2 linked regions of the Homo sapiens genome follow. The protein of the gene in region 2 purifies or fractionates together with the protein of the main gene of each other region. This does not show direct contact. Each region holds a gene or a part of one and is shown on either strand. Other genes may lie near its edges.

Evidence for each region.
Region 1: the proteins of SEPTIN4 (region 2) and NUDT14 purify together in Homo sapiens (affinity purification with mass spectrometry; one large-scale study listed by BioGRID and IntAct). This does not show direct contact.

Annotation. Positions count from the first base shown.
Region 1 is NC_000014.9:105,172,287-105,175,532, forward strand, and holds the end of NUDT14 (uridine diphosphate glucose pyrophosphatase NUDT14), read right to left. Parts: exon of another isoform or gene 3,202-3,246; intron 976-3,201; coding exon 735-975; 3' UTR 653-734; downstream 1-652. UniProt on the Homo sapiens protein: Hydrolyzes UDP-glucose to glucose 1-phosphate and UMP and ADP-ribose to ribose 5-phosphate and AMP. The physiological substrate is probably UDP-glucose. Poor activity on other substrates such as ADP-glucose, CDP-glucose, GDP-glucose and GDP-mannose.
Region 2 is NC_000017.11:58,534,261-58,538,069, forward strand, and holds part of SEPTIN4 (septin-4), read right to left. Parts: intron 3,196-3,809; coding exon of another isoform or gene 3,119-3,195; intron 1,949-3,118; coding exon of another isoform or gene 1,945-1,948; exon of another isoform or gene 1-1,944. UniProt on the Homo sapiens protein: Filament-forming cytoskeletal GTPase. Pro-apoptotic protein involved in LGR5-positive intestinal stem cell and Paneth cell expansion in the intestines, via its interaction with XIAP. May also play a role in the regulation of cell fate in the intestine.

The sequences.
Region 1 (3,246 bases), on a different chromosome or scaffold from region 2:
AACCTGGCCCATGTCAAGACCACTGGCCTTGTGTCCCCACCCTGTGCCGCCACCTGCTCCTCTTGGAGCAAGCCTGCAGACATTTCTGCATACCCCACAGGCCGAGGAAGGTCCCTTGGAAAACTTCCAAGGCTGGGGGTGCACGGATCAGCTACTGGGGCCCCCGACACAGGGCAGCTTTGGCTCCGGGCTCCTGTGGAGTGGCTCTAGCCCAGCCCCAGTCAGGGTGGGGACCCCTCACTTGCCCCAGGAGCAGGGAACATACTTTCCCTGCAGCGTGCAGCCTGCAGTGCTGCCCACCCCATCCTAACTCCTGAGGACTGGCTCAGCCACCACTCTCGTGAGCACAGCTCATGCTGCAGCCCCGTGACCAGCAGGCCCACCCCCAGGCCTGCCATGCCACCCTCCATGAGTCCCGGACCCCACCCCTCCCAGCTCCAAGAGGAGGCACAGCCTGGCCCTGCCCATGGCATCCCCAGGCCTGTCCTCAGCCCCACAGCAACCACCTGCATGGCCTGCCACCAGCTACTCCTCCTACAGGAGAGCTCGCCGTGTCCCGAGGGCCATCTCAGGTCAGGGTCACTGCTTCCCGCCCCTTCCCCAGTCCTCTCCAAGGCCCTGGTCACAGAGCTCAGAACCAGCAGGCAGAAGCTGGAGCTATGCAAGCCTTTATTGGGGTCCGCGGGGTGTGGGGTGAGTGGCCAAGACTGGCCTCTGTCTAGAACCCTGGAGTCTCACTGGAGATCCAGGTTGGGGGCCACCTGGCTGAGGAACCATGAGACACCAAAGATGACGCCGAGGGTCTTGGGGATGTCCGGGTCGTCTGCAAAGGCCTGGGCGCCTTCCAGGGGCAGGTGCACCACCTCAATGAGCTCACCCTCCTCCACCAGGCCCCCACCTGGACCGCTACGCTGGGCATCTGTCACCTCTGTGTAGAACATGGTCTGTCTGGAGCCAGTCAGTCCCACTCCAGACCTACGGGTTGAGACAGGGTCTGCTGAGTCACCCACGCTGGCCCCGCTGGCCCCCTGGCCCTTCTACCACCCTCCAACCCACCCTCTCCACTCTGCTCCCTCCAGCCCTCCAGTAGGCAGGACTCTGGGATGCCCTCTCCCACCCGGATTCCCACCTGGTGTGCACGCCCGTGGCCCCTCCCGCAGCAGGGCATCCCTTCCCTGATCACGTTGTACTCGCCAGGTGGGGTGGGTGTTGTCGATGTGATTAAGGACCCTAACCGGTGACTTGAGCTCATCAGAAGGGAGAGCATCCTAGGCGGGCATGGCCCGATCACGAAGCCCTCCAGAGGGTGTTTCAACGCCAGAAAGGGAGAAATTCAGGCCAGTCCTGCTGGCCCTGAAGGGGAAGCAACCGCCATGCTGGGAAGGGCCAACAGCCAGCAGGGAGGTGGGACCCAGTCCCCAGCCACCAGGAGCTGAATTCTGCCATAACCTCGTGAGCCGGGAAGACCCCAAGCCCCCATGAGATTGCAGATCCGGCTGACAACCTGCCTGCAACCTGTCAAGGCCAAGCAGAAGACCCCACCCCTGTCTGCAGCCCCCAACCAGATACCCTGAGGCTGTTCCCAGTGCTGTTTGGAGCCCCTCAGTCTGTGGCCAGCTGCAGAGGCCCATGCCAGACCCCAGCCCATACCCGGGGACACAGGCTGGCTGGGAAGCAGGGACAAACCCACCAGGCCTTCCCGCAAGGGTTCCCCACCAGGCACCCACAGGACACAAGTTTCAGACTAGGAACAGCATGCACTGACCGCCCCCCCACCCCCCGTAGCATGGCAGAGTGGGGTGGGGTGGCAGCGAGGTCCTCAGTACCAGGCCCAGTGGCCCAGGCTGGGGAGGGGTAAGAGGAAGCCCCCTCCCTCAGTGGGCAGTGGCCAGAAGGGGGCTGCTGGCAGCCAGGAGGGGTCAGGCACCAAGGGAAGGAGCCTGGACTGGCGTGTGTGGAGGGAGACCACGGGCTAGGAGGACAGGATGGCAGAGGGGCTGGGCTGCATTCTGGAACAGGAGGGGGAGGGCCAGGTGTGGATCTGGGGAGAAACGGGACTGAGGGGCATCTGGGAAGATGACCAGGGGGTGGGGGAGCCCTGGCTCGCCGCAGGAGGGGCTGTCGGGTGCCATGAACCAAGGCCAGCCGGAGGCCTGCAGGGTAGAGGCCGCCCTCTGAGATGTACCCAACATACAGGGGCAGGGACAGAACTGGGGGCTTCCATGCCCCACCCCCAAGGCCTCCCCACCTCCGGGGGGACTCACCCCAGACCGACCTTACCCAGCTGCTTCCTTGCCCTCTAGCCCCTCACCTCCCGCAGACCCCTTCCTGATGGCCCATTTCCGGCGGCGGCCGCGGCTGCGCCTCTGAGGGAAGTGGCGGGTCTGGGGTTTCCAGCCCCGGTTTCCGCCGGCTTGTGAAGGAGACAGGCCCGGCCCTTGGCCCGGGCTGAGAGGAATCTGCCAGCCAGGCTGGGCAACGCCTCCCCCACCCCAGGGCACGTTCCAACTTCACTCCATCACGCCCCAAGCTGACTGCCTCCCTGGGCCTTGTCCTTTGCAGCGGCAGGTAAGAGGCCTGGCTCACCTCCAGAATCAGAGACAGGGAGCCACGGGCCCTGCCACAGGGTGGGTGAACTTTGCTGTCAGTCCAGCCCCCCATCAGGCCCTCAGAGACGGACACCCTGACCCCTAGTCAGCAGCATCTCCAGTCCTGCATCCCTGAAGCCACGGCCTGCTCTTCCCGATGCGAGTCTAAGCAGGATGCCTACTTCCCAGAGCCCTCCTTGGCTCCCCAGCACCCTCACAATCAGGCTGTGGCCCAGAGGCTGTACCAGTAGAACCACCGCGGCCAGGGCTGCTTGACCACTTGCCCTGAGAGCCTGTGCGGTCCCTCTGCCAGGAACCTGCCCAGGCCCACCTCCTCCAGGGGGACCAAGGGGACTCCAGCCCCTCCCATGCCTCCCGGCTGTGCTCAGTACTATGGGCTGGGGAGCTGGGGGCACAGTGGGCGTGGCCCACCACGGGGTAGACACCTGCAGAAAACCAAGGCCCATCCTTCACACCCAAGTCCACCCTTCGGCATGGAAATTCTGTTTTGTTGAGACAGAGTTTCGCTCTTGTTGCCCAGGCTAGAGTGCAATGGCGCGATCTCGGCTCACCGCAACCTCCGCCTCCTGGGTTCAGGCTCACCGCAACCTCCGCCTCCTGGGTTCAAGCGATTCTCCTGCCTCAGTCTCCTGAGTAG
Region 2 (3,809 bases):
CAAGCCCTGCATGCTAACCTACTGCAGCATTCGGAGAGCTCTGAGAGAACTTGGCCTGGGCACAAGTCCCATGCCAACTTGGCTATTATCTCACTGCCTGAAAGTCCCTTGCCCTCTCTGGGCCTCTGTTTCCCCCACTGAAAGAGAAGACTGGACTTCTCCCAAGTCTAGCTCTTACATTCTGTGTGATGGAGGCAGGGTCTAATACCTGCAGGGCCAAGATACAGCAGCCCTTGCGTCAGTCACTGGGGATTTACCGAGTGCTCTTCCTCATCTCCAGCCAGCAGGTGGCCTGGCCAACTCTGCTTCAGCATGGCTTAACTCTTGGAGCGCTAGTTCTCCCTCAAAATTCAACATCCCACCAGGCATTGATGGCCTTGACTACAGTACAACTCCCCAGGCACTGCTAGGGCATGGTATCTGAGCCAAGTGTCTAGGGGAGTGTCTAGCTGGGAAACTCAGCTCAGCCACCATAGCTCTAGCCTGCTGTCTTGGGCTCCGTTGCTTAGGTCAGGCCAACATGATATGTCCTGGCCCCCTCCACTAGGTCTTTCCTGCCCACCCATAGGTGCAGGTTGTATGGCACAGGACCTAAGCAAGGAGGCTGCATGTGGGCCATCCCAGGGCCCAGGTTCAAAGCCGATAATAAAGAGCAATTACCACAGGAAATCAGGATTTCAGATCTGCATGACTAGCAATGGCCACTTCTGCCTTTCAGTAGCTAAGTTTCCCTAAAGTGGCGCAAGAACTAATTGTACATCCCTTCCCCAGTGAGATAGATGAGTCACTGACGATACAGTCAGAGAGTCCTTGGACCAAAGGCTATCACTGGGTTGTGTCTTTCAAGGAAACCTCAGCAAGTCTGTCCAACAAGGTCTGTGGTGGACAAAGGCAATAAACCAAAATACATTAAGCCCAAATCTTCCCCCAGCTGCTGCCATGTGTCCCATGATCCTGGGGGCAGGCATAAGGTGTGGGTGGCAAGGCTGGGGAACACTGTGTTTCCTGGCACCTGCTGAATGGCTGCAAAGAGGGGCAGTTCCAGAGCTGGCAGGGTGCTAGAAGCCAGCCACTCTGATAGGGCAGACAGTCCTTCCAACACCCTCCGTGAACAGGGCAGGGCCATAGGAGCTCAGGGTTGGAAAGGACTTACAAACCTCCTAATGTGACTACTCACCAGATGTCTGAAGGCTCCCCTGCCTTCCCAGCCTCTGCTCGAATACATACCTCCGATGGCCAAAAATTCACTGATTCTAACAACTGCCCTTCAACCTTTGGGCTGCCAAGTTACCAAAGTCTTCACTATACTGAGCCAAAATCTGTCTTTCCCTGGCTTTTACCCTCCATATGCCTCCATGCTGGAAGCTTTGCTGACTCATTTCATTGGACTTTGCTTTGTCCTTTGATGTCCACACCCTTTCAAGTGACCCATCTGTATACTTTTCTCTACCAAATTCACCACAAGCTCCTCAAGGGCAGGGACTATGTCTTTTCTTTTAACCTCTGCTCACTTCAAATCAGCAAACATGTGATGTGATGTTTTTCTGGGTGTCCAGGCCTCTGCCCCCAGGAGATGGCTGATCAATATGGATTGACTAAAAGGACTCATTGATTAGTTTTCCATTCTGATTTTAGAGCCCAGACAAGCCTTGAGGCTCTGCGCTTCATTGACCCTTCACTTGCCCTTCATCCTGGCTGCTCACAAGCTCACACCCACCTCCCAGCCCCGTGGTTCACATACAAAGACACAGATGTTACTCTCACTAAAACCTTTCCCTTCACAATTCTTGATATCTAAAGGTGCTGCTGAAATATTGAGAAGTATTTTCCAGGGAGACGTGGCTATAGAAGAAGGGTTTCTATACCATATAGTTGACTCCCTGGGACAGACTGCTCCTTAAAATGCTTCCAGCTTTGATGAACAAACTCTGAGCCTCAATTTCTTCATCTGTGAAATAGGGAGAATAAATCCACTCATAGGTTACTATGAAAACCCACTAATGCACTTAACATGATCACTAAATGAATGGTAGCTATTATCTCCATTAATAAGAAAATTATCAACATCAAACCAGTAACTGTCAACTGTGACTATTTCAAATGCCTTCCCTCCAAAGGATTTGGAGTGTGCATGTGTAATAGGTGTAGAGAGATGGGAGGACAGAGAATACCAGAGTAATGCCTTAGATTAAATTGACATTGGAATGACCAAGCCGCCACCACCTGTGGAGTCAGCTTCTCCAGCTAGACACCATCTCTAGAAAGCTGGTGCTTGGTCTCAGACCTACCGACCCAAATTCCCAGAAACAGCCACTGTGGAGACCTCTGGAACTAGATGACTTTGCCGGCAGTGGGTGTGCCAAGGAAGCGACACCCACAGTGTCAGCCTGAGCTTCCCTCAGGAACTGCCTCACATTCTGTCCCCCTCCTCCAGGCTTCATTCAGCCCCCAAGGTGCAGCTGTCTCCTGCTGCTCCCCTAACAGCAGCTGAGCCAAAGGCAGCTGAGCAGAGGAGGGTGAGGGGACATGGCCATTTCTGCCTCTCAGGACAGCCTTCCTCTGGCTGAGCACCTGTCAGGGTGGCTCCTGGGTTACAGATTTACTTCCTCACCCAAGTATGCACCCTGGCCTCTGAAGCCAAGCTCCCTAATCTACCCAGGCCCACTGTTTCTGTTACTTGGAAAATCCACCATTTCAAACAGCACCAAACTACTCTGCAGAAAGATGTGATGTTGGAGATGGGTTTCAGTCACCACACACCTTCTGAAAATACACCAAAAAGTCCACAATGGATGTGGCAGATTCTTCCCTATGTGGGACTATTCTGGGCAAAACAAAGAACTAAGGGAGTCTGGCCTCAGCTCTGCTATCAAGTCTGAGAGAAAAGCATTGTATATTCCTGCCCCCATTTTATAGGCAGAGGGAGTAACCTGCCCAGGTCTCACTGTGAAGCCAGGACATTGTTCCCTCTGTGCTTCCAGGCAGACTGCACCACAGCTTGTATTAGGTGACCACCTGTCCTGGTCTGCCCAGGATTGAGGGGGTTCTTGAGACATGTGACTTTCAGTGCTAAAACCAGCAAAGTCCCAGGCAAACCCTGATGAGTTGGTCAACTTACCCTGTCCCCAGGTTAGCAAGTCTTAGCCAGAGGCCACCAGCCTTCCATCCTGCTCTGGAATTGGCTGCCCATGGTAGCTGGAAATGAACAGGGTGCCATCTGACAGGGTAAGATGCTTGCTTCCTAAGAAGCTGTGCAACAATGGTCAAACTGCTATAAAAATCCTCCCAAGGCCGGGCGTGGTGACTCATGCCTGTAATCCCAGCACTTTGGGAGGCTGAGGTGGGTGGATCACAAGGTCAGGAGTTCGAGACCAGCCTGACCAACTTGGTGAAACCTCGTCTCCACTAAAAATACAAAAACTAGCTGGGCGTGGTGGCGGGTGCCTGTAATCCCAGCTACTCAGGAGGCTGAGGCAGGAGAATCACTTGAACCCAGAAGGCAGAGGTTGCAGTGAGCCGAGATCGCGCCATTGCACTCCAGCCTGGGTGACAGAGCGAGACTCTGTCTCAAAAAAAAAAAAAAAAAAAGCCTCCTGAGATGCCCTGCCCCGTTTTCAGCAGTTCTGCTCCATTCTTTCAACAATTCTTTCTTCTCAACTACGAGCCTCTGCCCAAAGCAAGAGAAATGCCGGGTGCAGTGGTTGGTGCCCATAGTCCCAACTACTCAGGAGGCTGAGGCAGAAGGATCACTTGAGCCCAGGAATTCGAGATTACAGTGAGCTATGGATTGCACCACTGCACTCCAACCT